3 separate regions of the Homo sapiens genome follow, and regions 1 and 3 are each linked to region 2. Evidence: fine-mapped expression QTL. A gene starts in region 2. Each other region holds a variant in brackets. All regions are shown on one strand. Distances are from middle to middle. Region 1 holds the start of ZP2 (zona pellucida glycoprotein 2). Region 2 holds the start of CRYM (crystallin mu). Region 3 overlaps LOC105371123 (a long non-coding RNA gene).

Region 1 (10,797 bases), 62 kb after region 2:
TCCCCCTTTCCGAGATGGTAGAGATAATGATCAATAAATACTAAGGGAACTCAGAGACTGGTGCCGGCATGGTCCTCCGTATGCTGAGCGACGATCCCCTGGGCCCACTTTTCTTTCTCTATACTTTGTCTCTGTGTCTCTTTCTTTTCTTAGTCTCTCATCCCACCCGACAAGAAAACACCCACAGGTTTGGAGGGGCAGGGCACCCCTTCATCCCATAGTGTCATTGCTGTGTGGGCATCTTACACACTCTCTGAACAAGCAGAGTCCTGCCATAGTTAAAAACAGCAGCTTATTTCTTGCTATATCACTGCCCCTTTATATGCAAGCTACTCTAGAAAAACATATATATGTATCTATATGCATGCATAAACATACACATACACATACCACTAATCTCTTACAATATTGACTTCTCTTGGTTCTTGAAACAACCTCAGCATAGGCAAACCCACATACCCATCTAGGATAAAGACAACCAAATGAGTATCCAGGTATTCTCCAACAAGAATCAAACAAGTAGAAGAAAACTGCAGAGCTCGAAGACAAGGCTTTTGAGTTAACCCAATCCAACAAAGACAAAGAAAAACGGATTTTAAAAATGAACAAAGTCTCCAAGAAGTTTGGGAGTATGTTAAATGACCAAACCTAAGAATAATTGGCATTCCTGAGGAAGAAGAGAAATCTAAAAGTTTGAAAAAGATATTTGAGGGAATAATTGAGGAAAACTTCCTTGGCCTTGTTAAAGATCTAGACATCCAAATACAAGAAGCTCAAAGAACACCCAGGAAATTCACCGTAAAAAGATTATCATGTAGGCACATAATGATCAAATTCAAGATGAAGGAAAGAATCTTAAGAGCTGTGAGGCAAAAGCATCAGGTAACCTATAAAGGAAAAACTATCAGATTAACAGCAGATTTCTCAGCAGAAACCCTACAGGCTAGAAGGGATTGGGGTCCTGTCTTTAGCCTTCTTAAACAAAATAATTATCAGCCAAGAATTTGGTATCCAGTGAAACTATGCTTCATAAATGAAGGAAAAACACAGTTTTTTTTCAAACAAATGCTGAGAGAATTTGCCACTACCAAGCCAGCACTACAAGAACTGCTAAAAGTAGCTCAAAATCTTGAAACAAATCTTCAAAATATACCAAAATAGAACCTCCTTAAGGCATTGTCTCACAGGACTTATAAAACAAAAACACAATGAAAAAAAAAACACAAGGTATTCAGGCAAAAACTAACACAACGAATAGAATAGTACTTCACTTCTCAATACTAACACTGAATGTAAATGGACTAAATGCTCTACTTAAAAGATATAGAATGGCAGAATGAATAAGAATTCAGCAACCAAGTATCTGCTGTCTTCAAGAGACTCATCTAACATGTAAGGACTCACATAAACTTAAAGTAAAGGGGTGAAAAAGGACATTCCATGCAAACGGACATCAAAAGTGAGCAGGAATAGCTATTCTTGTATCAGTCAAAACAGACGTTAAAGCAACAACAGTTAAAAAAGACAAAAAGGCAAGGTGTGGTGGCTCATGCCTATAATCCCAGCACTTTGGGAGGCTGGAGGGGGCAGATCACTTGAGGTCAGGAGTTCGAGACCAGCCTGGCCAACATGGTGAAACCCCATCTCTACTAAAAGTACAAAAATTAGCTGGGCGTGGTGGCACATGCCTATAATCCCAGATACTCAGGAGGCTGAGACCGGAGAATCTCTTGAACCTGGAAGACGGAGGTTGCCATGAGCCGAGATCACGCCATTGCACTCCAGCCTGGGCGACAGAGCAAGACTCCATCTCAAAAAAAAAAAAGACTTCTGGGCCTTCTGTCTTCCATATATTGATGCCGCCCTACCTTTATATTTATAGATCGATAAAGCTTTCATCCTAGTTCTTTCTGAATTTATTACTGTCAGAAGGCTCATTCAACTTGGATCTGTCTAAAGGACCCAAGGGGAAAACAACATTAACATTGTATATTAGATTGGTAAAGGAACTACCATATGATGTTCGAGAACATTCTCATTGACATAGTCTATCTTATTTTTCCAAGTTAAATTCATATTTGATATTTGAAAGCTATTTTGAGCTGCATTAGCATAACTGGGAGAAGTTTTTATATTATTTATCTTATACTGCTAAAATTCTAATTAATGTCATCTTGTACTTTTAAAAGACAAGTGAACTGCAAGAGAAGCACAGAGTTTTAAAACACCCCCGCATGCACAGACACACACACACAGCGAGAGAGAGAAAAT[T/C]GAAATGAATTAGAAAGGGCAGGGAGAGGCATCAGGAGACCTGGTTTCTCACTGGAGCTCTATCTGCTACTAACTTGGTAAATGACCTGGAGCAAGTCACTAAACCTCTTTAGATATTAAACCTCTTAATATCTTCATTTTACCATAGGGAGTTGGACTTTGTTTCAAAGCCTCAAGTTCCGGATCCATTCATTTCGCCTTTTTACCTTTATACTACTGAGTTTTCATCCTTGAGCCTTAGACTCTGTAACTTAGGTAGCTCACTCAGAAATCAGTCAAAATTATTATTAAAAAAAATTTTTTTTTGTCCAGGCACGGTGGCTCACACTTGTAATCCCAGCACTTTGGGAGGCCAAGGCGGATGGATCACCTGAGGTCAAGAGTTCAGGACCAGCCTGGCCAACATGATGAAACCCCATCTCTACTAAAAATACAAAAAGTAGCCAGGTGTGGTGGCACACGCCTGTAGTCCCAGCTGCTGGGGAGGCTGAGTCATAAGAATAGCTTGAACCTGGGAGGCAGAGGTTGCAGGGAGCACAGATGGTACCACTGGACTCCAGCATGGGTGACAGAGTGAGACTCTGTCTCAAAAAACTAAAACTAACTAACTAAATAAATTTTTAAGAGACAGGGTCCTGCCATGCTGTCGAAGGTGGTTTTGAATTCCTGGCCTCAAGTTATCTTCTAGCCTCAGCCTCCCAAAGTGCTGGGATTATAGGCGTGAGCCACCATGCCCAGTCTATAATTATTTAATTGGTTATTTTATCACTAAAACAATTCAACCAAAACAGAGGGAATAAAGTTGTTGGAACCTCACCAATGCACCTTAATGTAGACTTTCTCATTGTCTGAACTAGTACCCTGGGTTCTTTGTCCTACCTCCTAGAAAATTAAGGAACATGGACACAAAGGTGGGTTGGAGTGAAAGTTTAATGAGGGAAAGAGGCCAGGTGTGGTGGCTCACACCTCTAATCCCACCAGTTTGAGAGGCCGAGGTGGGTGGATCACCTGAGGTCAGGAATTTGAGACCAGTCTGGCCAATATGATGAAACCCCATCTCTACTAAAAATACAAAATTAGCCGAGTGTGGTGGGGCATGCCTGTAATCCCAGTTACTTGGGAGGCTGAGGCAGGAGAATCTCTTGAATCCAGGAGGCAGAGTTTGCAGTGACCCGAGATCACACCATTGCACTCCAGCCTGGGCAACAAGAGCGAAACTCCGTCTCAAAAAAGAATAGTAATAAGTGAAAGAAAAAAATTCTCTGCAGCAGAGAGGGGAGTCCAAGTGGATTGCCAGGTTACAGCTGAATTCAAAAGCTTTTTTAAGAAACTCCTCTCTCATCTCTAGCAGTTTGAGTAACTTCTCATCAGTAAAGCTGTCTGTGCAACTCCCGGTATCTTACGCAACTGTGGGCATGTATCTAGGCAAGCACAAAGCCTGCGTCTCTTGTTTTGATAACTGCGGGTTTGTTTTAGGTAAGCCCCCCTCCTCCCTGTGTAAGTTCCCACCATGGATATGTCTGAAAAGGGGAGGAAACTTTTTCCTAGGAGCTCGCTAATTAGACAAAGTTGCTTATCTGTGTGCAGGTGCAGCCTGTTTATCCCAAATGATTTTTCCTTTTCTTCTCCCTCAAAGTCAGAAAGGCAGGAGTTACTTATTCTTTAAGGGCTGAAGGAAGAAAACTCCCACCTTTGCACTCTGAAAGTTCACTGAAAATAAACTGACCAAAGGCAGATGAATAAGAGAAAAATTCATACAAAATTATTAATGTGCAGGGGAAGGTGGGAATCACAGAGTAATTGCCCCTAAACCCTCAGTGGGGCACAGATGCATATATACGGTGGGTTTTCTTTTTTTTTTTTTTTTGAGATGGAGTCTTGCTCTGTTGCCCAGGCTGGAGTGTAGTGGTGCAATCTCGGCTCACTACAGCCTCTGCCCGCCGGGTTCAAGCGATTCTCCTGCCTCAGACTCCTGCGTAGCTGGGATTACAGGCACACACCACCATGCCTGGCTAATTTTTTATATTTTTAGTAGAGACAGGGTTTCGCCATGTTGGCCAGGCTGGTCTCAAACTCCTGACCTCAGGTGATCCACCTGCCTCGGCTTCCCAAAGTGCTGGGATTACAGGTGTGAGCCACCGTGCCTGGCTGTATATACAGTTTTTCATAGGGGAGGGAGGAGATGGGGACTGTAGACAATTCTCTTGAGGGGCAATAATGATTATCAGGGAGAATGAACAGACCAGGGAGAGAGAAATTAACTTGTACATAATTATCTTTGGAATTTGACTGAGCTTCAGAGGCTGACATTATCTTGTGGAAAAGTCTGTCCATGTGTGGTTACATTCCTTAGTCTCCTTTCCTGCTATAGATAATGAGATTTCAGGGAGGGGATAGAAGGCAATAGTGTTTCTTCTGTTAAGAAGCTGCCTTGGCTGGGCCCAGTGGCTCATGCCTGTAATCTCAGCACTTTGGGAGGCCAAGGCAGGTGGATCATTTGAGGTCAGGAGTTTGAGACCAGCCTGACCGTCATGGTGAAACCCTGTCTCTACTAAAAATACAAGAAAAAAAAAATAATTAGCCATGGTTGCTGGCGTGCACCTGTAATCCCAGCTACTTGAGAGGCTGAGGCAGGAGAATCACTTGAACCTGGGAGGTGGAGGTTGCAGTGAGCCCAGATCATGCCATTGCACTCCAGCCTGCGCAACAAGACCAAAGCCCTGCCAAAAAAAAAAAAAAAAAAAAGAAGGAGCTTTCTTTTTTTTTTCCCCAGAGAGAGTTCCTTCCTGTACTTTGGGGGTGGAAAGGGAACAAGGCAAGGATAGAGAGACCTTGATTCTGAGGCTTATTTCTGAAGCCTTTTAATTTTCCAAAGCACTTGGCATGCCCAGGCACATTTGGGGAATTGTTTTCTGTGCTCCAACCCTCCCATCTCCTTAATCCTATTCCCGGTGATGATATTCAATGTATTTAAAACCCATACAGCAAAAGCACGAACAAGTCAGAATAGACAATGGTCGCAAATGCCCAGCACAGCCACGTGGACTCCCCGGACCCTGGCAACCCTCTCCTTTCCTGGATGATGCTGTCGATTCTCTGGGACAACTTTCTTGACTTGTAATCCAAATACATATGTATAGACCCACATGCAGACACATAAAGTATAAATATACACATAAGTTTGAGAAAGAAAAGAAACTTTTTATCTGAAGAATGCAAGTCCCTTTAAATTATCAGGCCCAGAGAGGCATTGAAACGTGACAGCAGTCACACCTCACTCCCTCGGGCTCAGTAATTATCTCTTGGAGCTACTTGATATGTGGGCTCTAGACTGACACCAAGTAGCCATAAAATTAACCTAACTATGCCATACACTGGACATCATAACTCATACCATATGCTGGACGCCATTAATCATACCCTATAGTTCAACAATGTATAGCCAATCACTAATCAGTGTTTTTTTTTTTTTTTTGAGATGGGATCTTGCTATGCTGCCCAGACTGCCTTAAAAGTCCTGGGCTCAAGCTATCCTCCCACCTCAGCCTCCTGAGTCACTGTGACTACAGGTGTGAGCCACTGTACCCAGCTAATCAGTGTTATTTCTGTAAATCAATGAGTCAAGAAACACTGTATCAGCCACTAATCCCAGCACTTTGGGAGGCCAAGGTGGGCGGATCACGAGGTTAGGAGACCATTCTGGCTAACATGGTGAAACCCCGTCTCTACTAAAAATACAAAAAATTAGCCAGGAATGGTGGTGGGCGCCTGTAATCCCAGCACTTTGGGAGGCTGAGGCAGGTGGATCATGAGTTCAGGAGATCAAGACCATCCTGGCTAACACGGTGAAACCCCATCTCTACTAAAAATACAAAAAATTAGCTGGGCGTGGTGGTGGGCGCCTGTAGTCCCAGCTACTCGGGAGGCTGAGGCAGGAGAATAGCGTGAACCTGGGAGGCGGAGCTTGCAGTGAGCTGAGATCGTGCGACTGCACTCCAGTCTGGGCGACAGAGCAAGACTCTGTCTAAAAAAAACAAAAAACAAAACAAAAAAAACACCCACTTGTGACAAAAGTGGAGAACTCACCAAGGCAACTTGGAAGTGTTTCCTGGGCAGCTGTCCACACTTTGCCTCAAGTAAACTCTTTAAAACTATATTCTCTTCTCCTTCCTTTAGGTCGACAGGTTTTTCATTTTCCTATTAAAGCAAAACATGAAAGCATAGTAGATATATAGCCCTGAAATTCCAGTTTTATTGCAGACATCTTTCATGTCAGTACTCACAGATCTGAACGAACTCATAGAATCATTTGCAGTAGCTGAAGAGTATTCCATAGTTTATCCAACCATCTCTAGATGGTGATATTTAGGTTGTCTTTTATAAATACTTTTATAATTGTTGTGGAAAACAAGGGCAGCAGATTCAGAATTTAAGAATTATAAACTGTCATTTATAAGAACCACACTTCAGAAAGGAAGACATCTGCCCAAATGAGGCAACAACAAAACTATAGTCTTTCTTTTATGTATGAGAACCCCGTCAAGAAATGCCTTGTGATTAGCAAGAGAGAAATGGTTTCATGATACATAGAACCCAGGGCAGAGAAGAGGAGAAGGAACACCTTGTAATAATAAATCAGCAAACTTTAAGAGGTTCATTGAAAAGAGTGTGGAACACATATATTTGAACGAGGTCTGCTGTTTGTTTACTGCCTTTTTTTTTTTTTTTTTTTTGAGACAGAGTTTCACTCTTGTTGCCCAGGCTGGAGTGCAGTGGCACAATCTTGGCTCACTGCAACCTCTGCCTCCTGGGTTCAAGCGATTCTCCTGCCTCAGCCTCCCGAGTAGCAGGATTTACAGGTGTGTGCCGCCATGCCCAGCTAATATTTTTGGTAGAGACAGGGTTTCACCATGTTGGCTAGGCTGGTCTCAAACTCCTGACCTCTGGTGATCCACCCGCCTCAGCCTCCCAAAGTGCTGGGATTACAGGCGTGAGCCACTGCACCGGGCCTATTTAGCGCAATATTTTTTTAAATTTAATTTTAATTTCCAGGATACATGTACAGGACATGCAGCTTTGTTACATAGGTAAACGTGTGCCATGGTGGTTTGCTGCACCTATCAACCCATCACCTAGGTATTGAGCCCCGCATGCATTAGCTATTTATCTTGATGCTCTCCCTGCCCCCACCCCCCAACCCCTGTCACCAGGACCCAGTGTGTGATGTTCCCCTCCCTGTGTCCATGTGTTCTCATTGTTCAGCTCCCACTTATAAGTGAGAACAGAATGTTAAGAATCATTTTTGTAATAACTTTAGTTTTTCCTACCTCCTGATAGGAGACACTGTTTTACGGAGCAGCTATTTCTTCCTGTGTTCAAAGTCAGTTGCTGAACAGATGGTAGCTTCCTGCTTTTCCGGAGCAGAATCCTAGACATGGATGCTCCTGGGCCCAGAGCCATTTGTTCGGTGGCTGTCCCCAGCACACCACAGGTCTGGGTTAGGTGAGACAAACAAAATTAATCTCTGGTGCACATACCAGCTTCACCAGCCCACAGCGGGCTTTCTCACCACATCTCCTGCTTGGGGTCTCTGTGCTGCCCCTTAACCTTTTAGAAACCCCAAATTTGGGGGCTCTGACCAAAGCTGCCCTTTCCAAGGCAAAAACTTCCCGCTCTGGAGAAAGACACCATCTCGAGGGGAGTGAGTAGCGCGGTGGGAAGGGAGGTGGGGTCTGAGGGAGGCTGAATAAGCACATTAACCCATCACTTCTCTGACCACCTTCTCAATAGGGCTCTGAGTCTCACGTCTATGCTCCTTTTTCCTCTAATGTCTTATCATAGTCTTAACCATTGTGGCAATAAATTATATTTGTAGAAAAGGTGCCACTTTTCAGAAAAATATGCATAGAAGGAGAAACTATTGCTATCATGCTTTGGCTATAAAATGAAATCCTTTTACCATCTCTATCCCCAAAAACTTATCTGTATTTTGCTCCTTCTTCCCAATTCCGCTGGGATGTAATCTACTCAATTCCCGTAAGGAGGTTAACCACTGGCCACCACAGATTTTCTCGCCTCGCTCCCTCCAAGTATTTTCCAGGTTTTCCTGATTATAAGAATCACCTGTGGTGCTCGTTAAGTAAATATTTCCCAGGCACATCTTCTGGAGAGTCTAATTCAGCAGCTTTTGGGTGGGACCCTGGAATCTGTGATATTAATGAGAGCTCCATGTGATCCTTTTGATCAAGGAAGTCAGGGAAACAGTTAATCTCCAATGTTATTTCAGATGCCTCAGGTTACACCTCAAAGGCAACACATGAATCAATACAGTTTAGGATGATGCAAAAATAATTGCAGTTTTTGCCATTAAAATTAGTGGCAAAGGGCCGGGCACAGTGGCTCACGCCTGTAATCCCAGCACTTTGGGAGGCTGACACGGTTGGATCACTTGAGGCCAGGAGTTCGAGACCAGCCTGGCCAACATGGTGAAACCCTGTCTCTACCAAAAATACAAAAATTAGCTGGGCTTGGTGGTGGGCGCCTGTAATCCCAGCTACCCGGGAGGCTGAGGCAGGAGAATCGCTTGAATCCAGGAGGCAGAGGTTGCAGTGAGCCAAGATTGCGCCACTGCACTCCCACCTGGGCAACAGAGCAAGACTCCATCTCAAATACATACATACATACATAAAAGTAGCGGCAAAAACTGCAATCACTTTTGCACCAGCCTAATAATTGCAAGTGTCACCCACCACTTGAATGGAGTCTAAGCCTTATATCCACCTATTTTGGAACATGGGCTGCAGACATCTAGTTATCTCAAAGAGTGTGAGAGATGTTGAAAAAACACAACCATCAGGCCTCAGGAAATCTGAGTTCTCCACCTGGTCCCTGACATTGTTGGGGCAAGTTGCCTTGCCTCAGTTTCCCCACTGGGAAACTTCCAAGTGCTTTACAACAATATAACATTCTTATTAGATCACTACTCCCTTTTACCCAGAAGTTTTACTTTGAGGAATTTATCTTGAGGGTTACCCAAGGATATGTATCAGAATGCTCATCATGTTACTGCTTATAATGATGAAAAATTACAAGCCACCTTATGCTCATAATTAAGGAAATTATATAAACACAGATTTATCTCAAATTGAATATTATGCCACCCTAAAATGGTAACAGAGAGCTTTATGTTTAATAGTTATAAAGTGACAGTAGCAGATTACAAAACAGTATTTAAACTTTCCTCCCAGTGTTTTAAAAAAATTGTGTGTGGTGTTTGTAGAAACATGTCTAAAGTTACTCACCTAAATATTAGCAGTGGCACTATTATGAGTGACTTTTGCCTTTTCTCTGTATCCTTCTGAAATTGTATCTTTGCGGTAAGCTTAAGCTTTTACACTTGGGGGTCAACAAGGCTTCATTCATTTTTTTAAAGACACTTCCTGTGCATTATCAGGGTAACTTCTGCAGTAGCCAGAAGACTAGATGTTACTTAAAAGGTTTTAGGGTAGGTGCAATGGCTCACGCCTGTAATCCCAGCACTTTGGGAGGCCGAGGCACGTGGATCACCTAGGTCAGGAGTTCGAGACCACCCTGACCAACACGGTGAAACCCAATCTTTACTCAAAATACAAAAATTAGCCAGGTGTGGTGGCGTGCACCTGTAATCCCAGCTACTCAGGAGGCTGAGGCAGGAGAATTGCTTGAACCCAGGAGGCAGAGGTTGCAGTGAGCCGAGATTGCACCAGTGCACTCCAGCCTGGGTGACAGAGTGAAACTGAATCTCAAAAAAAAAAAAAAAATGTAGTGGTGTGAACAAGACTTGTTTTTTTCTCAATAAAGCCCATGATTCTCTTTGGCTCTACATTGCAGTTGTAAATAATTTGCCCAAAAGATCCTAATTTCCCCCATAGTTATAGGGAAAACACCAATTCACTCACCTGGAGCTGATTTCAGCAAACTCTGATTTCATGCCTGGCCCACAGGGCAGCTGGCAGAATACCCGGCGCAAGCTGTCAGGAATCAGAGGCCACTTCCTTCCCCAATCCTTCCGTTTCAGCTGGGAGAATGGGACAAGATTCAGGTGCCCCCAATGGGGAGAGGGTGTGGATGCGGCTGGCTTCCTGCTATAAAAACACAGAGCAGCCTACCCTCTACCTGGTTGATCTGGTAGTGTCTTCTGCTATGGCGTGCAGGCAGAGAGGAGGCTCTTGGAGTCCCTCAGGCTGGTTCAATGCAGGCTGGAGGTGAGTAATTCTGGAAGTGGAGGGAGGGGGTATGGTAGCTTTGTTTGTTAAAGTCCATTCTTCCTTGACTATCTCCCTGTCTCTTTCCAGCACCTACAGGTCGATTTCTCTCTTCTTCGCCCTTGTGACTTCAGGGAACTCCATAGATGTTTCTCAGTTGGTAAATCCTGCCTTTCCAGGTATGTCTCTTGGGTGACAGAAGTCTTCTTAGCAGAGAAAACAGGTTGCAGCTGGAAGGCCTAGCTGGCCAAGAAACACAGGCCTGGCTCAGACAACCTCCATT
Region 2 (10,797 bases):
ACCAAAATTGACTACACCGCTCAAACCCTTCTATCTAGCACTAAACAATAAGCCAAAAAAAAAAAAAAGTTAAAATTCAACCCTAAGTCCCTATGGGTTTTCATTTGTTAGAGGCGCGCGCTTTCGAGCTCCGCGCGCCGACCACGGGCAGCGGGTGGGCCCCCTGGCGTCTGGAGCAGCGGCCAGCGCAGAGGACGCAGGCAGAAGGAGGAAGGGCTGGCCGGGGCTCCCGAGCACTCACTGCTCAAGCCTCGCCGCCGCCTCCGCCGCTGCGGGGTGCGCGTCCATCTGGTTGGGGCTCCTCATCCCAACACCCTCCCCAACGGCCCGCCGCGCAGCCGCCCGCGGGCGAGTCTGTAGCCTGATCCTGCGCGGACCCGCCAGAGGCACACCAGGAGGTGGGGAACCGGGGGCGCCCGGGGCAGACCGGGGTGGGAGTGTGGGGAGCCGGGGACGGAGTGTGGGGAGCCGGGGACGCGCGGAAGGTGCCGGGGGCGCGCGGAGGAGCCGGGAGCGCCACCTCAGTCCCCCCACCGCCCCACCCCGCGCATGCTCCCAAGAGCCCCAGACCACCCTTCTCCGGCTTCCGAGATACTTCATCCGTTGCTTGTCCTGGCCCACCGCTCAGTCCCCCAACTCTAGGACGACAGAGGTTAGGGATAAGGGGAATGAGACACGCGCCTTGGCTGCAGCATTCAAGGTGAAGCCAACTCAATAGTCAAAATAAAGACTTTTATACAATATTTTTACATTTTAAAATAAAATGTAAAGATAAAATTTCGTGAGGAGCTGTATTGGCATCTACAGCAAAAGGAAAAGTCAGTAATCCTGAGCCGTCTTTGTTGAAAATTTTTGTACTCTGTTCACTGTGGATTTTTTGGCATTGATTTTTATTTTAAATATTGCATTTAGATGTTTTAGTTTAATATTTATCATGACTACTGAGTGAATCCCGTACATTTTGTGCCATAGGTGAGTACCTCACTATGGTACAGCTCTACCCTGCTGCCATCTTCACTGTGGTAGTGGCAGAAGTCTAGGGGGATGTAAGTAACCACCTCCTCCGCAGGGTCTGTTAGGGGTTAGCAGGGAACTTCCAGAGGCTCAGGCACAGGAGCTTACATGGCCCCCAGGCTTGTCCCAGGACAAGGTCTCAGGGAAGGGCGGGGAAAAGAGATTTACACCAGCTTTCTCAATACTGACCCCTGCATTACTAAAAAGTTTATTAATCTTCTTTCTGTTAAGTCATAATTATAATAATAATTTCATTATTTTAATAATAATAAAATAAACCTCAATAACACCTAATATTTAATATGCTACTTATTAATAATACTTATTATTGGAGGCTTGGGACAATTAGTTCTCTGTGCCTCTGGTCTCAAAAGAAGTGATGCAACCAAGACTAGTTTTCTCAGTGCTACTTTACTGAGGACCTGGGTGATGTGAACCAAAGCTTTATCAGGAAGATGATTTGAGATGATTTGCAGAGTTGTCCTGTTTCTACAGGATTCACTGGAGTGAATTCCTATTATTGAGGTTTCTTATTTTGTCATTGTTAAAATAATGAAATTACTATTATAATCATGACTTAAAGAAGATTAATAAACTTTCTAGTAATGTGGGAGTCAGAAATAAGATTTCTATTTAATCGGGGCTAAATTCCTGAATTTACTATGGAAGCAAATAAATATCTGGCTTTCTTATTTCATATCTCTTTTAGTTGATGAGTATTTGGTTTTGCTTTTTTTCTCCTTGTTAACTTTAAAAAAAAAACCACACAATTTATAAATTTAGACAAGAAGAGACTTTCTTATACGAGGTTACAGCCTGCAAGGTGGGATCCTATGCTGGGAAGCACGCTGTATTATTCCGTTTTCATGCTGTCTATAAACACATGCCTGAGACTGGGCAATTTACAGAAGAAAGAGGCTTATTGGATTTACAGTTCCACATGGCTGGGGAGGCCTCACAATCATAGTGGAAGGCAAGGAGGAACAAGTCACATCTTACATGGAGGGCAATAGCAAAGAGAGAGCTTGTGCAGGGCAACTCCCATTTTTAAAACCATCAGATCTCGTGAGACTCATTCACTATCATCAGAACCGCAGGGGAAAGACCCGCCTCCATGATTCAGTCATCTCCCACTGGGTCCCTCCCACAAGATGTGGGAATTATGGGAGCTATAAGAAGAGATTTGGGTGTGGACATGGAGCCAAACCATATCACATGCCTTGGCCAAGATCAGAGACAGGCACTTTGAAGGAGGAGGGTTGGGGTAGGAGCTTTATGCTCAACAGGTTGGCTAAATATACATATTCAACAGGTGAGAGAAGAAGCTATGAATATTCATGAAAGTGGTCCTGATGCATGTGTATTTAACAAACATGCATGTTACATACAACTCATGTTCATTTTGGGGTGGTTGCAGCATTTAAATGTATTACAATTCAGCCTGATACGTCAAAAGGTCTTTTCAGGACATGAAGGCATGCAAGTGTGCAACCTCTGTAAGTCAGCCAGAACCATCCTATAGTCGGTAGTCTTATCAGGAGAAAGTTACTGAAATCAGTCTCTTGTCCAATCAAGCTGTAGTTATGGCTGGTGGAACAAGGGGTCGGTTAGTCAATATCTGTGATTTGGATGAGTTGTAATTGTTTTAATATTGCATATCTTCAGCCGGGCACGGTGGCTCATGCCTGTAATCCCAGCACTTTGGGAGGCCAAGGCGGGTGGATCATCTCAGGTCAGGAGTTCGAGACCGAGACCAGCCTGGCCAACATGACAAAACCCCATCTCTACTGAAAGTACAAAAATTAGCCGGGGGTGGTGGCATGCACCTGTAATCCCAGCTACCTGAGAGGCTGAGGCAGGAGAATCACTTGAGATCATGCCACTGCACTCCAGTCTGGGTGACAGAGAGGGACTTTGTTTCAAAAAAAAAATTTATATATATATATATGCACATATATACATATCTATATAGATACATAGATACATATACATATCTATATAGATACATAGATACGTATATATGTATATACATATATGTTTGTGTATATATATATATACAGAGAGAGAGAGAGAGAGAGAGAGAGTGAGAGAGAGAGAGAATCACTCTGTTGTCCAGGCTGGAGTGCAGTGGCACGATCTCGGCTCACTGCAACCTCCACCTCCCTGGTTCAAGCAATTCTCCTGCCTCAGCCTCCTGAGTAGCTGGGATTACAGGCACATGCTACCACACCTGGCTAATTTTTGTACTTTTTGTAGAGATGGGGTTTCATCACGTTGGCCAGGCTGGTCTCAAACTCCTGACCTCACATGATCCGCCCGCCTTGGCCTCCCAAAGTGCTGGGATTACAGGTGTGAGCCACTGTGCCCAAGCCATGTTCCCTATCTTCTCTGAGCAGGGCTGGGGAAAACAAAAACAAAAATATTGCTTATCTTCAAGCCAGTGCTTGTTTAGCTGCTGGAGAAAACAAAAACTCTGTGGCAGTTAGAACATAGCTTTTTTCTTTAAGTGTAAGGGTGCGTGACTTAACCCTTCCTGGCATGGCCTTAGATCCTGTTTATAATTTGTTATCGTATTGCCACAAAGAGTCTGTTCTGTCAGTCTTGTGATCTCTGTATTAACATTAAGGCTGCTCAGTTGTGTCTAAACTCTAAAAGGGAGAGGATGTAATGAGGCATATCTGATTTGCCATCCCATCATGGCTGGAAACTAAGTCTTTAAGGTTTTTCTGGGGTCTGCTTGGCCCAGAGGGGGTTCATTCAGTAGGTGGGGGGCATAGGATTTTATTTTTAGTTCACATTCACAAAAACAAAGGGCCAAAAAAGTCTTACTGTGTCACACAGGCTGGAGTGCAGTGGTGCAATCTTGGCTCATTGCAGCCTCCATCTCCCGGGTTCCAGCAATTCTCCTGCCTCAGCCTCCTGGGTAGCTGGGATTACAGGCACCCGCCACCACACCCAGCTAATTTTTGTATTTTTAGTAGAGAGAAGATTTTACCATGTTGGCCAGGCTGGTCTCGAACTCCTCACCTCAGGTAATCCACCCACTTGGGCCTCCCAAAGTGCTAGGATTACAGGCGTGAACTATCATGCCAGGGCTATATGTCTGTGCTTTCTAAACCCAATAAATGTGATGTAATATTAATGCTAACAGCACACGTGATGGGCCAGAAACATTTCTATAAGCCCAGCGGCTCTGGGCATAAATTTCTAGGGATGGTGAACCGAAGAAACAAAATTGTGTCATTGAAATCAGCTTTTCCCAACCACCAGTGTCTTCTCTCTCTCTCTCTTTCTCTCTCAGTGTTCACTTATTACATGGCTACTCTGTGCCAAGCACTGTTGCTAAACACATTATGTACAATTTCTCATTTCATTGGTACTGATTTTGACACTTACTCATCCACTGTCTTTTATCATGATGTGACCATTTCCTACAAAATGCCCTATGTAGCTTCCAACCAAAATACCACAAAGCACAACTTCAGCAGTCCTGCCTCTTGACCTTCTCCCAGGCTCTGCTCTCGCTCATCTGTTCCATCCTTTGCATTGGCAGAAGACCCATCTTTCTAAATGCTTACTCTCTTGGAGCATGTAATTTCTTTCCTAGGAATCACCATTCTCAGCTGCCTGACTCCAAGAATCGTTCTCAGTTTTATCTTCTGATGCTCCTAGACCTCAGCACCTTATTCCAGCCTAACACATCTGGCAACTCACTGTTCCCAGAGCTATTCAACATGCCTTCCACCTCAGGGCTTTACTTGGCCTGTAATGCCCTCTTCCTCTCTTTCTGCCAAAGTAGCTTAATGATTAGGAATATAATTCTGAAGTCCAACCATGGGCAAAGCCAGCTCCTCTGCTGACTTGGTGGATGACCTTGAACTAAATTTCTTCCCTTCTCAGAGCCTCCAATGGACAGTAAAACTAATAACAACACCTCCCTACCTTAGAGGTTGTTGTATAATTAAATGAGATAATATACATAAAGTGCATGGTGCAGTATCTGGTACATAGTAAAGATCAATAACCTGATGTTATCATTGTTGTCGTCACTATTATTATTTCAGACCTTGGTTTCTCCCCACTCTTTCATGAAGCCCTTATCTAACCACTCCAGGTCAAAATCATCTCTCTTTTCTTTGAATTAACTTACTTTTCCTATCACTGATTTGATGACTAGGATTTATTGCCTTAAGCTTTACATCATTCCTTTCCGATTTTATTTCCCCATCTCAGGTAAAAACTCCTGGAAGAAAAGATCCTGCAATTTGGCTTTTTGTGAGATGGAAAAGATTACACCTTGCCCTGCAAACTTCCCCCCTTTAAAGGCGAAGGTTTGTTAGGTTAGTTAGCCTGTGAGAAAACTGTGCGTTCTTAGCAATCAAAGGCCAGACATCTGGGGGTACAGGGGGGAGGAAGACTAGGATAAGAGACTCTAGACGGGGACAGAATTAAAAGGAAAAAAAAATTAAATAAGCCTCCGTCTCCTTTTATCTCCTAGCAGTAGGCAGTAATTTAATAAATAAAGGAGCCCCGTTAGCGTTTTCCCTGTCCATTCTTTCCCAGGCACGGTGACCTAGACAGCAGCAAAAAGCGAGTTAATAGGGAGGGGTTATGTAGGAAGCAAAAGTCAAGGAATGTGGCTACAGCTGATTACAGGAACTGAGAAAGTGGACCAAACAATATTGACTCCCAGCACGCCACCGCGATGTCCATCTTGGGGAATCCGTTGCTGGAAGGGACCCATCTCGCCCACCCTTAGGGGTCGAGGTGGGCGAAGGGGGAGGAGAGGGCTGGCGGGGCGGGGCGGGGTTGCTCCGCCCCCGGAGGCTGGGCTGTGACCAGCAGGCGGCTCCACAGAGCAGCGGGCGCGCTCATAAAGGGCACAGCCGAGGGTACGTGGATCGCGGTGCGGAGACTGAGGTTAGAAGGCACAGGTGGCGAGATGAGCCGGGTACCAGCGTTCCTGAGCGCGGCCGAGGTGGAGGAACACCTCCGCAGCTCCAGCCTCCTCATCCCGCCTCTAGAGACGGCCCTGGCCAACTTCTCCAGCGGTCCCGAAGGAGGGGTCATGCAGCCCGTGCGCACCGTGGTGCCGGTGACCAAGCACAGGGGGTGAGTGAGGAGGGTCGGGGTCAGGGGCAGGAGAAACTGGAAAGCGGGGAAAGGAGGAGCAGGAAGAGGAGGGGTGGGAGAAGGGAAGAGACGGCTTGCCTAACCGTTGCTAACAGCTGCCACTTTTAATAGGCGCTACCCGGTGTGCTAAGTGGGCGTTTTACAGGTGTTACCTTGTTTATTTCAGCACACTCTCCACCTAGGGAGGTATTGATACCACCATTTGATTGGTGGAAAACTGAGACTCAGAGAGGTTAAGTGACTTACCTAAGCTTACACAGCTACTAAGTGGCAGAGCTGGAAAGGTTTTCTGATCCAGAGCCAGACTTCTGAACATACTGTGCATAGTGTCTAAGGGAAGGGCAGAGGGATGCGGGGGCTGGAAGAGGGCCAGTGGGGTGGTGAGGAAGGAAAGAAAAAGGAAAGTATATGGATACTTTCTAAGAGACCCCAGCATTGATGGGAAGGGGCTGAAGCTGCTCCCTCTCTCCTTGTAGCTACCTGGGGGTCATGCCCGCCTACAGTGCTGCAGAGGATGCACTGACCACCAAGTTGGTCACCTTCTACGAGGACCGCGGCATCACCTCGGTCGTCCCTTCCCACCAGGCTACTGTGCTACTCTTTGAGCCCAGCAATGGCACCCTGCTGGCGGTGAGCAACTTCCTGTCCCGGGGTGGAATGGGGCCCCTGGGCCCAGATTGAAGCTCAAAAGTAAGTTCTCCGCAGCAGGGGGAGTCTTGATTGTGACTACGCGTGCCCCTCTGCAAGTGACTGGATACCAGCAACAGTGAAGGTTATCTGTGTCCATGTATCTATTTCTAGGACTGCCTGAGGATGCATAACACGGCACCAGCGCCCACTGCTGCCTCAAGCATGTGACAGTGTGGAAATAATAATCTTGTTGTCATTCTTGCATATGTCCTTGTCCTATACTCAGTTGCCCCAAATACGCAGCTTGAATGAACCCATTAGCCAAGGGAAGACTTACTTACTGAATCCTTGTCGACATGGAAAAGAAGGGGTGTTCTATAATCCCTGGGAGTCTTCAGAGGGGTATACGGTGTGACCTGTTTTAATATCTAATCATAGTTTCAAAAGGTAGCAGTAGCTTGTGTTTATGGAGTACTTTTTATAATGCATCAGGCACTTTTCTAAACATTTCACATTTATTAATCCTCTTAATACTTAAAACTATTCTATGATATGGGTAATATGATTACTCCCACTTTATAGATGAGGAAACCGAGTCAGAGCAACTATGTTCAACTTACCGAGGTTTATGTAACCAACAATTAGCATGGTTGGACTTCAGAGCTGCTCAGTCTAAGTCCACGGTCCATAGGTCCAGACTCTTCTAAGACCACCGCCATTTTAACTGCTACATATTGGGCACTTATGTGCCAAGAAGGAGACGCTGATCACATTCAATTCTGCAAAATTCCTCTATGGGTGTTTTTATTAACTCCCCTTCCCCCCAATTTCTGTTGAGGTCCTTGAGGCTCAGGTTAGTAGAGTCACTTTGCTTGAGGTCACACATCTGGTTAGTGAAAGACTCAAGAATCACTCCCAGGTGTGACAGTTAACTCTTAAGGTCTGTGCGCTCCAAGCTGGGTCTTACAATGTCCCTCCTTTTCCCCTGAATTTCTGGATCGCCAAATAATCTGGCCGTTTAACACTCCTTTGAGAATATCTAGCTTTCCCCAACTTACACTCATCCAACCGAGATGGCATTCATACTACCTGCCAACAGCGGTTCCCTAGGGGGGTAGAACCCAAGGCTTTGAAACTAGATGACAGCTGAATCTGCTCAGTGACTTCGTGATTCACTTCCTCATCTGTAAAATGAGGTTGATGATGCCTATTTTTTGATGATCAGCTGAGATGAATAACAGGGAGAGGAGTGCAGAGGATGGTTTTTACTAGCGAGGCATAATTTTCAACCTTCGCTGTGTATCGGAATCACCTGGGCTGTCTGGGTCTCACTCCTGGAAGAGATACAGACTGGGTTAATCTAAGGGTGGTATCTGAGCATCTTCACGAAGCTTTCCACATGTGCAGCAGGAACGGAGAGCCACTAAGAGTTTCATGGCCGTTGTCCAGATGTCAATTGGCAACCTTCTCTCTCTAGTTCCTTCTTAATTTGGTGTTTTGAGAATCCTAGGGCAAGAAAAGAAAATGGGCAGTTCTTGAGGGCTCACCATGTGCTAGATGTTTCCAGATATGCCAGTGCATTTAATCCTCACAATAACCCTCTGAATGGCTGGCATTATCTTTTTTACAGGTGAGGAAACCAGTGCTTAAAGATTAAAGTGTTTGTTCAAAGTTGCATATCTCGTAAGTGGAGGAATCGGATCCAGGTCTGACGCCAAACCCATGCTGTTTGTAGGATGCTATAAAACTTCCTAAGCTAATATTTTAGAACTGTTTCTTCTAATTTATGCAGTGGACAGGGGTTCCCCTTGCTCACTGTCTCTCTTTTCCTCCAAGGTCATGGATGGAAATGTCATAACTGCAAAGAGAACAGCTGCAGTTTCTGCCATTGCCACCAAGGTAAGATGAATGGCTGGCTGTACCATTAAGGTGAGCTGTCAAGTGGGGTCTGGTGTCTCAATCTTGAGAGACTAAAGGAGAAGTGGGGAACTTATTTTGGTTTCCTGTTGGACATAGCTGGAACTCCAGATGTCAGATATATCAGTAATTCACGAAATTATTAGCTACCAATTAGTGTGCATGACCAGATTTCAAGTACCTTATGTGCATAATTCTCAATCTTCCCATCAGTCTTGAAGAATCGAAATGAGAAATTCTCTCCACCTTCCAGGTCAAGGAATATGGCTCAGAGAGCTTCTGTGAATTGCCCAGGATCACACAGCTAATAAGTGCTAGAGTAAGAATTTAATACTTGACCTCTCTGGCTTCCAGGACTGGCTTCTTGTCCCTGTACCACATTGCCCCTGGTAAGACAGTATAATTGTCCCATAGACCAAAGCTAGTACTACACAAGAGGCTGAGTGAACTGAACATATCCAAGCCAGATCCCTGTATTCATTCGACAAGTATTGACTGGGCTTCTATCATGTGTCAGGCACTGTTCTAAATGTTAGGGAAATGGCAGTGAGAAAAACAGAGGGGCACACACAGGGGAGGTAGACAATACCAATAAAAAGGAAAACACAGGCTGGGTACAGTGGCTCACGCCTGTAATCCCAACATTTTGGGAGGCTGAGGCAGGCGTATCACTTGAGCTCAGGAGTTGGAGACCAGCCTGGTCAACATGGTGAAACCTCGTCTCTTGTAAAAACACAAAAATTAGCTGGTCGTGGTGGTGGGCGCCTATAATCTCAGCTACCCGGGAGAGTGAGGCAGGAGAAACGTTTGAACTCAGGAGGCAGAGGTTGCAATGAGCCCAGATCGAGCCACTGCACTCTAGCCTGGGCAAAAGAGTGAGTGTCTTAAAAAACAAAACAAAAAGGAAACAAAACAAAACAAACAAAAACATCTGTTGAGTTTAATAATGTGTTAAATAGTAATAAATAATATGTAATTAAATAATTAGTACATATTAATAAATGATTAATAGCGTGCTTAGAATTTGCTAAAAAATAAAACCAACAATAATCCAAAAAGCCACATAACATGTTAGGTGAAGATAAAGCAGAAGTGAGAGTATTGGAGAAGCTGTCACATTTTACATTATCCAAGAAAGGCCTCCCTGAGAAGGTGACATTTGAGTCAAAGCTGAAAGCAGTGAGTTAGCGAACCATGCAAAAACACGGAGGGGCACTCCAGGCAGAGGGAACAGTAAGCAATGGGGGTGATGATGTTCCCAAGCAATGTCAAGGCATCCTATAAGAAAAACAGCATTTTTAAAAGTTAGAGTTAAGAGGATGAGGCTTAGGAAACAGGGTGTCTGTGGGAACGATTGGAGTCTGGAGTCTTTCACATTAAATGTGGAAGTACAAGGTCTTGGGACACTGGTTTTCCTAAGTTATTATAAAGGAAACGTGGTAACCCAGGGAAAGTTGCAGCAGCAAAGACCAGGTGTTCAGGTTGCATGTCGAGGTTTTCTAGATACCTGCTGGGGAGGGAAGAATGGGAGGATTAATCTGGTAATTGTATGCGAAGGGAGTAGACCAACAGCACCCACCTCAATGAACTGGTTTTTAGTTATATCCAGACCTGACTCAACTGAAGTAATCAAGGACTCCTTGCTATGTTTGCTGGTAATTTGGGAACAGAATGAATCTTGTATTACTGTCATTTGCAAAGAGCTTTAGTCTTTTTCAAACTCATTTCCAGCCCCTTGTCTGGACTACGAGTTTCTGTGAGGAAGGCAGAGAAAGTATTAATGGCCTCATTTTACGCATAAAAGAATAGAAACTTGGGTTTCCTGAAGTCATACAACCAGGTTCCTGCGGGTCCTTTTGAGGCCACATGGTCTTGTCCCAGATAAGAAGTTTCCAACAGAAGCAAGCTATGCAGCAGCATTAGCTAGGGAAGTTTTTAAAAACTCAAATTCCCATGCCTACTGAATCAAAATCACAGAGTGAGGATCAACCAGGTCTGGAAACCACACTTTTGTAGACCCAGCCTGCAATAACACTGCTTTGTTGCATTAATAAAAATCTGTGCTCCCAGAAGAATCAAGAAGCCTTGGGTTGACACTTCAAA
Region 3 (10,797 bases), 51 kb after region 2:
GGTACATTCAATTTTTCTATGTCCATTAGTTTCTTGAGTGTAATATTGGCCATCTAGGCACAGGATGTAAGAAATAATTTCTTAATAAAATGCAGAGCTACTCTAGTTCACTAGCTGTTTTTTCCAAAAAGAACAGCTTTATTGAGGTATAACATCATTAAATTTACCCATTTCATGCATACAATTCAATGATTTTTAGGACATTTATAGAGTTGCATGCCCATTATCATAATCCAGTTTCCATCAGCCCTTAAAGATCCCTCATGCCATTTGCTGTCAATCCCATTTCCACTCCCAACCTCAGGAAACCACAGTCTGCTTTCTGTCTCTATAGATTTGTTTTTTACGGGCATTTCAGACAAATGGAATCCTACAATATATAGTCTTTAGTGTATAGCTTGTTTCAATTCACATACTTTTTTGAGGTTTGTCATGTGTAGCATGTAATGGTTTCTTTCTTTTCACTGCTGAATAATATTCCACTGTGCTAACATACCACATGTTCTTCATCCATTCAATGTTTCATGAATATGATGAATATTTGGGTTGTTTCCATTTTTCAGTAATGATGAATAATGCTGCTATGAGCACTGATGTACAAGTCTCTGTGTGGACACATATTTTCATGTGTCTTGCGTATATATCAAGGAGTGAAACTGCTGGGTTGCATGGCAATTTACATTTAAATTTCAGAAGTTGCCAGACTGTTTTCCAAAGTGGCTGTACTACTTCACATTTCCACCAATAACGTATGAGGGTTTCAATTTCTCCACAACCTTGCCAGCCTTATTATTGCCTATCTTTTTGTTTATGGTCATCCTAGTGGATATGAAGTGGTCTTATTATGGCTTTAATTTTCAATTTCCTAATGACTAAGATATTGAGCATCTTTTCATGTGCCCATTAGCCATTCTTACATCTTCTATTCAAATCTTTTTGCCCAATTTTTAAGTGGTTGTCTTATTAATAAATTATAAGAATTATTTATATACTCTGGATACAAGTCCTATATCAGACATATTTGGAACAGAATGAAAATGAAAATACCACATATCAAGATTTATAGGATGCAGTTAAAGAAAAGCTTAGGGCAAAATTTGTAGTTTTTTATGCATATATGAGAAAGAAAAAAGATCTCAAATCAATAACTTAAACATATTATCAATAACTCAAGGGAAGGAGAAAAAGTATAGAAAAATGACTATAAGGAGTACAATATAAGACCAAAAAATTTCCAGATCTGTAATAAAAACAAAAGAAAATGGACTAAATTTATGATGTGGAAGACTCAGCCATGTCTTGTTTATAATAGACATATCTAAAATATAAAATTGCAGAAAGATTGAAAGCAAAAAATGGAAAAGTTATAGCAAGCAAATACTAACAAAACATTGGTGTACCCACATAGATGGTCTGCAACTTATGAGAGTTTGACCTAATTTTTCAACTTTATGATGGCACAAAAATGACAGGTATTTAGTATGCTTCTCAGCTCACAACTGAGTTATTATATCAACTTATGGTGGTTTTGCATTGTAAGTTGAAGAGCACCCGTATTGGTAGCAAGGAAAAATATAGCTTAAGCCAAAAAAATTTACTAGGCATAAAGAGAGATAATACATGATAATGAAAGGAACAATTAATCAAGAAACTATGATCGTTTTAAACTTGTATAAATTAAATAACACAGCTGCAAAAAAGGGAAAGCAAAAATTAAACAGAAAAAAAAAAACAAAACCACAATCATAAGGGAAGATTTCAGACATCATCATAATGTTCTATATCAGACTAAAGATTGGTATAGCTATAAAATATTTGGGCCGGGCACAGTGGCTCACACCTGTAATCCTAGCACTTTGAGAGGCTGAGGGGGTGCAGATCACGAGGTCAAGAGATTGAGACCATCCTGGCCAATATGGTGAAACCACGTCTCTACTAAAAATACAAAAATTAGCTGGGCATGGTGGCATGTGCCTGTAGTCCCAGCTACTCGGGAGGCTGAGGCAGGAGAGTCGCCTAAACCCGGGAGGCGGAGGTTGCAGTGAGCTGAGATCGCACCATTGCACTCCAGCCTGGTGACAGAGTGAGACTCCATCTCAAAAAAAAAAAAAAAGAAGAAAAACAGATTTGAACACAATTAACAAGCTTGATCTAACAGTCACATGGAGAAAGGACCCTGTGCCCAATAGTAAATGCATGTTTTTTCTAAGCACACAGAATATTTATAAAACCTGACCACTGAATAGAAGCAGTGCAGTTCTCGACAAATAACAAATAACAGGGTTCATGCAAACCGTGTTCTCTGAAGACACTGCAACTAAATTAGAAACCGCCATCCTTACATAACTCATCAACTATGCATATGTTCTCCTGTGGTGTATTTTTTACATTGTTTTCATCAAATACATATAATTTTACATTACATCTTTTCCACTCCTTAATCCATCATAAATATATCCCCATATTGTTACACAATCTTTAATATATTTAGATAATTGTCCACTAAACTGATGTGAGAAATATCTATTTTTGAAGCCTGTAACTGTATATTCCTCTTATCTCTTTTTGTCTAAGTTTTTATTCCAAGATAAATTATTTACCCACTCAGAAAAAGTACAAAGCTTTCATCTACAGTTTCTTCACAATAATAATGAGCTCCAAAGGTCACTGTTTGTTCCTTTTTCTGGCTTCTAGGTGAAGAGCAGTAGAAGCAGCCTGGAGGGCAGCATTATTTAGCTTTTTTTAAACATTGTTTTTAGCCCAGAGAGAGTGACATATCCAAACATGATTATGAATACTGTGAGAAAATGGTAAGGTTCTTCATCAAGTTTTGCATGAGCCACTTTAATTTAGATACAACTGCATTCATTAATGCACTTTGAAATTTAAAAACAGGTCAGGCGAGGTGGCTCACGCCTATAATCCTAGCACTTTGGGAGGCAAAGGTGGGTGAATCACTTGAGGTCGGGAGTTGAAGACCCACTTGGCCAACATGGCAAAACCCCATCTCTACTAAAATACAAAAATTATCTGGGCATGGTGGTGCACACCTGTAAGCCCAGCTACTCATGAGGCTGAGGCAGGAGAATTGATTGAGCCTGGGAGGCTGAGGTTGCAGTGAGCCAAGATCACACCACTGCACTCCAGCCTGGGTGACAGAGTGCAAAAAAAATAAAAAATAAAAATACATATAACCGATAGAGAACTTCTCAAAGATGTATTATTTGTAGTAGAATCCTAAGACTCCAGCCAAAGGGTCTGCTTTCAGAAGATAAGGATGAGGAAGAGGAAGAGAAAGAGAAGAATAGTGGCCACTAGGATGGTCATAAGCCAAATTAGGATGAGGATTGTCAAAGTCAAAATAAAAATTTAGAGCTGAATCTCTAAATTTAATGTTTTATTTGGAAAAAGACTTGCAATTTGGGATACACACATAGACCAGGTGGTCTTCAGTATGTCTGAAGAAGAAAAGAGAAGTTTAGAGGTTTTATTAACAAGAGAAATGTTACATATTGCTCTTCAAGAAAGTTCATTGGCACTAGTAAGGGTTTGGGGAGCTGGCAAGCTCTGATTAGTGGGCAAAATTTGTCCTAGAGTTGCAGCAAGTTATCTCAGCAGCTGTAAATAAAACTGCTCCCGGGTTACAGCAGGCAGTTCCAGCAGTCAGTCTTGCTGAGAATTACGTTCTTGGAGCAATTTTTATTTATTTATTTATTTTTTGTACTCGGAGTGCTTTCTCCCCCAACTCCACCACCCAGCCTCTCAACCCTGATTTAGTTGGGTATAACAAGAATGATGCAATTTGCGTGATTAAGTTTCACAGGATGGAGGCAAAGGGTAAAGAGGACAGAATAATTATAGAGATGGGGAAGAAGGATTGGAGATAGAAGACAAGAAAGAGAAAGAATTTCTCAGTTCCAGCAGTCCTTAGGACTAGAACTTAAAGTCTCCTGTGAAATGGCGAAATAACCAAACTTTCTTAAATGGTAAATATCCTGGCATCCTCTGGCACGCCCTTGGGAAAATTTCCTCCTTGGGAGAAGAATGGGGTGGCAGGGGCAGCGGGGGGTGGGGAAGTGGGGGCAGAGATAAGGATTTAAAACATTTTTCTGAACTTGAAGATCCTCCTTATCCTATCCCTTCAAGGTGAGGTTGGGAAGGAGGGTTGAAGACCTAGCGTTCATATAATCCAGGAAAAGTTACTCCATCTATTTGAGTCTCCATATCCTTGTGGATAAAACTGGGGGATGTTGCTAGTGATCATATCATCATTATCATCAGCATCAACTAACTTTAGTAAAGATGAAGAAATAAAATTTCTTGCAACCCATAAAGCATGTTTTTACAAACTAGAAGTAGTGTGATTGTGGCTTAGGGAACAGACAGAGGAAGTTTTAGCCCAGTAATCATTTTTGAATTCCTCAAAGCCCAAAGGAAACAAAATTGGTGGGAGATGGTAAGGGCAGAAATTAATAAAAAGAGCTAACACGAATTTGCATATAATGTAGACATTAATTCCTTGTGAGGAGTCATGGTAATTGTGGGGGCAGTTGTGGATTTTCTTGACTGTACTGATCTTGTGGAAATTAGTATTTGAGCGTGTTCCATCAGCATACAGCTGGACTCTTGGAAGGCCAGAGAAGAATATTTGCCAGACACACACTGGAGAGACTTTGAGGCTCGGACCTGAGTGGCAGTGACCCCAAGTCAAAGCTCTCATCAACCTTCCTGTTGGAGCCTCGCCATGCTCCTCATATCTCCCCATACTCCTGCACTACTAGTATGTCTCAACTTAGAGAAACATCCTGTCCATGACCTCTGTGTTCCCTTGACTCTGACTGACACTTAGGTTTAGACAGGCAGGTCTTATTTCCTCCTGCACTGTCCTAAAACTCTAGAACCTCAACCTATTATCTGGAACCCCAAGCAGTTGGTTATTTAATGATAAGAAGCCCTTCTCCACAGACACCACTTCTTTTTTGCCAAAGACCCAGAGAAAACATGGTTAATCTGCTTCTAGGGGCAGCACTTGGAGAGATTCTCTCATGAATGGTTCCCCTCCTCCCCCCAGAGCAAGGACATTGTCAGCTTCTCATTGCTGTGTTTATGATTTTGCAGTCTCCCCTAACATCATAACAGCTGACAGTAGCTGACAACTAGGTAGTCTTAAATAGGTGTTCCTTCTACCATGGAGTCCAATCCTGGCCCAGAGGAAGTAGCATTTGGATGAAGAATTTACCTGGAACTCTGACTATCTATAAAACAGAGTCATGTGTGTTCCTTTGCTCAGGGAGAGGAAAAGAAGGGACAGAGATGATGGTAGTTGATACTTCCAGTCTAACTCCAAGAAAAAAACAACACTTGCAAAGTACAAACCAAACTTCTTCCTCATTGTTCTGAAAAACCATTTGCTGCTAATTGGGAAAGAAATTCAATGGCTTGTGCAACCCAGAAACACATATTTTCAGTAATGAGATTGCCCCTGTGTCCTAAGAGATCTGGTTTTCAAAAGCAGCCTGTGTTTGATCTCTAAAGCTATTCATGTCTAATTAGAGAAGAAATTCACTTGTATGGTAGGGAAGCACATTTTTTTTTTTTACATAAGAAGGAAAAAGATCAGAGTAGAACACTGCTTTTAACAAGATTACTTCATCTAATGAGGATCTTATTATGAATTTTAATGAAAATAAAAACAGTAACAAAGTAAGGGAAATTAGAGAGTAATACAAAAGTCCTGTTGTTCCATAGAAAACTTGCAGGAACCAGGCAAGGACAAAAGAAGCCATCAGTAACACACTGCTGTATGCACTGCCCTTGGGTTTATGAGAGACTATCTGTTAAGGTAAAGATGTGCTCAAATATATTATCCAGAAAATGTCACTTACATGTGTATTCTTTTCTCTTTAGCACAATGATACAACTGTTCAACCTATTTGATATGGATTTCTCCTATTCGGAAGAAATTTCAACAACTTCACTTCTAACTTAAACACATTCATCGACTAGCCTGGCCAACATGGTGAAACCCCGTGTCTACTAAAAATACAAAAATTAGCTGGGCGTGGTGGCATATGCCTGTAGTCCCAGCTACTTGGGAGGCTGAGGCAGAAGAATCACTTGAACCTGGGAGGCAGAGGTTGCAGCAAGCCGAGATTGTGCCATTGCACTCCAGCCTGGGCGACAAGAGCAAAACTCCGTCTCAAAAAATAAATAAACAAACACATATAACACTGTCAAAATAAGGAGAAACTTTCTTTCCCACATTGAAAGTCATTGATGTTTTCCTTAAAAGCATTGTATCATGTTTGTATTCTTTAACAATCAAAAAGAATCATTGTCTGCCTTTTTGTTTCTTCTTTTCTAAATGAAAACATTTATAAAAATATTTAAGTGGATAAGTTGCCTATTGAAATTGTAATGTCCCTGAAGTATTGGTTGAGCTTAATTTATTCATATAAGTTTCAAGCCATTCAAAGGCCTATTTTTCTGGCAGAAAACTAAAGACAGAGCTGTTATTGTACCATCTGGTTTGCATGAGGAATCTCTTGGCATCTCTTAACTGCACATTTTATAAATGCTAAATCCCAGATGGCATACATTGTAACAGTGAAGAGTTTTATAAAGGCTTCCAAAAACAAATTCTTTCAAATTTGAATACTGGATAGTCTAAGCAGGGGCTAGGAATTTAAATTCTACACTTGATTAAACTGGCTTTGTTAGCTGAACAAATTTCCCTTTTTTCTTATGTCTTTCCTTCTTCCTAATTATTGGTTCTGTGACTTGAAAATTTCAATCCATGTAATTCTTCTACCAACAGGTCCCCTCTATAACTCAAGTTCTAGAAAAACTGCAGGAACGACAATCATTGGAAAAACCTATGTTAGGTGCCATTTTGTTTCAAAGATGGTAGAATTTACCACAAGGGAGGTGTGTTATAGCATCCATTAGCAGATCATCAAATACCATCAAAACCGTTCAACTCTTACAAAGCTGATGGTTGGATTGGAAAGACAAGCAAATGTAAACTCCAAGCATTGTGTTGAAATAAAGCCAGAGTAGAATAATGATTGAGAACATGGGGTCTGAAGTCAGAGACTGACAGATATTAAGCCCCAGATTGGATCTTCCCATTAAGTTGGGCAAATTACTTCTCCCTAAGCTTTAGTTTCTTCATCAGTAAAATAAAGACAGTACTTTTCTCTTTAAAAGAGAATCATTCACAGGGTTGTTGCAAGTAATTACTGAATATTTGTAAAATACTAAGTACAGTTTATGGTGTGTAGTCAGCACTTAATTAAAGTAAATTAATAGTAGTACTAGCACTAGGAGAAAGAAAGTTTCTCCTTTCTTTAAGTCAATCTATATAAATGCAGCATTTTCTTAAAACTTCTCTTTTCTCTGCATTTTCCTTCTCAATAACAACAGCCGAGACCTAGTTTTGTTTTTTTTTTTTTGTCCTACCCCTTATCATGGTATAATAAAAATAATATATATTTTACAGTCACACAGAATTGAATTTCAATCTGGGGTTTTGTAATAGTTTACTAGGACTTCCATAACAAAGTACCACAGACTGAGTGGCTTAAACAAATTTAT[T/C]TTCTTACAGTTCTGAAAGCCAGAAATCTGAAATCAAGGTGTGAGCGTGGTTGGTTCCTTTTGAGGGCTGTGAGGAAAGGACCTGTTCCAGGCCTCTCTCCTGGAAAAAGACTTGCAAATGGCCATTTTCTCCTTGTGTCTTCATGTCATCTTCCTCTTCACATGTCTGTGTCCAAATTTTCTCTTCTTATAAGGACACTTGGTCCTTATAAGATGGTCATATTGATTAGAGCACACCCTAATAACTTCATTTAACATCATCACCTCTGTAAAAGCTGTATTAGTCTGTTTTCACACGGCTATAATGAAATACCCGAGACTGGGTAATTTATCAAGGAAAGAGGTTTAATTGACTCACAGTTCCAACATGGCTGGGGAGGCTTCAGGAAACCCAATCCTGGCAAAGGCAAAGGGGAAGCAAGCATCTTCCACACACAGTGGTAGGAGAGAGAATGAAGGAGGAACTTCCAAACACTTATAAAACCATCAAATCTCATAGGAACAAACTCACTATCACTAGAACAGCATGGGGGAAATCACCTCCATGATTCAATCACCTCCCTCCCTCAGCACGTGAGAATTACAATTTGAGATGAGATTTGGATGGGGACACAGAGCCAAACCGTATCAAAGGCTATCTCCAAATACAGTAACATTCTGAGGTGCTGGGAATTAGGACCTCAACATGAATGGTGGGGGAGATATATTTTCAGCCCATAATAGCTTTCTACTACTATCAACTGGAGGAAAATTCACCTCAAGGAGACTTCATTTCATTTTCTTACTCCTATCTGGATTATTTATAAATCAGTGCTTAGCACAAGGTCTATACATTGTGGCCTTGACAAAAACTTTCTTCCCTTCTTCTTAGAAAGACTCATGAACTCACATTGTTTCTGGGAACCACCTACTCTTTCCCAGAACTCTGGATGAAACGTGAACGATGTACATGTGGCTTACAAAACCTGCAGAGGACCAAATGAGGAAGGAGTGGCTTACAGAGCTATGATCAAAGGAGACTTAGCAGGACTCAGCTGTTATTTGAATGGTGGGGGACATTTTATGGAAAAGATGCTTTAAAGATTATACAAAGGTGGCCAGGCATGGTGGCTCACACCTGTAATCCCAGCTCTTTGAGAGGCCGAGGTGGATGTATCACCTGAGGTCAGGGGGTCAAGACCAGCCTGGCCAACATGGTGAAACCCCATCTCTACTAAACATACAAAAATTAGCTGGGTGTGGTGGCACGCACCTGCAGTCCTAGCTACTTGGAGGCTGAGGCAGGAGAATCACTTGAACCCAGGAGACAGAGGTTGCAGTGAGCCAAGGTTGTGCCACTGTACTCCAGCCTGGGCAACAAGAGTGAAACTCTGTCGCAAAAAAATAAAAAAAGATTATACAAAGGTGAGAATCAACTTCTTTAAACACAGGGGAAAAAGTAAAAAGCAGAGATGAGGGGAACCCTGGATTCAATTCCCAGGACTGTCACTAAGTAACTGTAGGACCTAGAGTTATTGTCCCTATCTGCAATCCAGGTTCCTTGCCTCTCATATAAGGAGGTAGCAACCAAATTCTGTATCAGTCAGGTTTCATCAGAGAAGCAGAACCATTCTGAGTGATATAGAATAAAGGGTTTATTGCAGAGATTAAGCTTATACCTGGAAGCCAGGTAAGCTGTCTAGTAAGGCTATTTCTTCTGCACCAGATGTTAGACCCAAAGTCCGTAGGGCCAGCAATTGGGAAGTAAAGATGGAGAGGAAGTAAAGAAAAAGAACAAATTAGAATCTGCAGAGACAAATTGGAACCCCAGAGAATAAAACGAAACCCACGCCTGTCTCTCACCACCCCCAACCTCGACGACACAGGTGTCTACAGGATAAGCTGCCACCTTTCACCATAGACAAAGCTGCAAACGCACCTGGCCTAGGATTCAGAGAAGCTGAAGGGGGAGATCTGGACGGAGTGGGAGGAGCTGCAGGTTCGCCTCCTGCCCCACGCCCACAGGGTGAGCAGCAGCTCAGCCACTATATGCATGGTCTCTCCATGGTTTTGGAAGTTACAGGCTGCTGGTGGATGGGAATAAATATGGCCAGAGATATGTCTTGTTTGGCAGGCACAGGATTTTGAAAATATCTTTAACATTAAATATCAACATTAAAATTGAGGAAATTGAATGGAATCTGGATTTTCAGCTTCCAGATGAGAAACTGAAGATCATGACAATTACCTCTGCCTGAGCTGGGAAGCAGTTCTTTTTTTTCTTTTTTCTTTTTTTTTAAGATGCAGTTTTGCTCTTGTTGCCCAGGCTGGAGTGCAATGGCGCGATCTCAGCTCACTGCAACCTCCGCCTCCTGGGTTCAAGTGATTCTCCTGCCTCAGCCTCCAGAGTACCTGGGATTACAGGCATGCGCCACCATGCCCGGCTAATTTTTTTGTATTTTTAGTAGACAGGAGGTTTCTCCGGGTTGGTCAGGTTAGTCTCGAACTCCCAACCTCAGGGGATCCACCCACCTTGGCCTCCCAAAGTGCTGGGATTACAGGTGTGAGCCGCTGTGCCCAGCCAAAGCAGTTATTTCTTTAGATGCAGCCTGGACTCAACAGTCCACATCACCCCCAGCTGCCCAGAGCTGTAATCCTGACCCTGAGGGCAATAGTTAGTCACTTGCCATTCTCATCACACTAAAGCCATTTCCTTGCACCCAACCGACTTCACTCATGTACAGTATTTGCCTTGCTCCAGTAACCATGTCGAATGGCCTTTTGAGTGTGACAATGTCCTATCATTTCCTCTCACATCAGTTACATCCTAACCCTCCCTCATTTCCTTCTGTGCCAATCAGTCACCAAATACATATTATGCGCCTGTGTGAAAGCTCTTCTAGTCCCCATTTCCAGCATGTCTGGCCAATTCTCAAGCATTAAAAAGGCTGTTCTCTTGGGGATATGGGGATATTTACACCTGCACTCACAGGGTTATAAGACTTAAGCAAACTTGCATATTGCCCAATTGCAGTTGAATTACTGATCAGTAGAAAGAACACACACACACTTGCAGGATAATTTCCCAGGTTAGCCAAGGATACAGAAGTGGCCACGCAGAGCAAAATTAGCTGCTATGTGTTTTAGTAACACTTTATCCTGGTCCCATTGTGGAGAAAAGAGAGATCAGACTGTTACTGTGTCTATGTAGAAAGAAGTAGA

The links. PIP is the estimated chance that this variant, and not a neighbour inherited with it, causes the effect.
Region 1: its variant is the best candidate, but not a certain one, in a credible set for the expression of CRYM in lung (TOPMed, PIP 0.76).
Region 3: its variant is the best candidate, but not a certain one, in a credible set for the expression of CRYM in spinal cord (GTEx, PIP 0.78).

The regions. Positions count from the first base shown.
Region 1 is chr16:21,211,203-21,221,999 of GRCh38, reverse strand. ZP2 (zona pellucida glycoprotein 2) reads left to right here and starts at 10,426. Exons shown (of 19, transcript NM_001376232.1): 1 at 10,426-10,514; 2 at 10,605-10,693. The coding sequence starts at 10,453. The variant T/C (reference allele first, on the strand shown) is at 2,272.
Region 2 is chr16:21,273,411-21,284,207 of GRCh38, reverse strand. It overlaps CRYM (crystallin mu), which reads left to right and starts at 5,918. Exons shown (of 8, transcript NM_001376256.1): 1 at 5,918-6,126; 2 at 6,624-6,777; 3 at 8,614-8,676. The coding sequence starts at 5,957. RefSeq lists an enhancer at 5,917-6,126.
Region 3 is chr16:21,222,696-21,233,492 of GRCh38, reverse strand. It overlaps LOC105371123 (a long non-coding RNA gene), which reads left to right. Exons shown (of 2, transcript XR_001752344.2): 1 at 1; 2 at 5,908-6,729. Among named protein-coding and RNA genes, the nearest start is that of ANKS4B, 5.6 kb to the left of the region's middle. RefSeq lists an enhancer at 10,284-10,797. The variant T/C (reference allele first, on the strand shown) is at 7,597.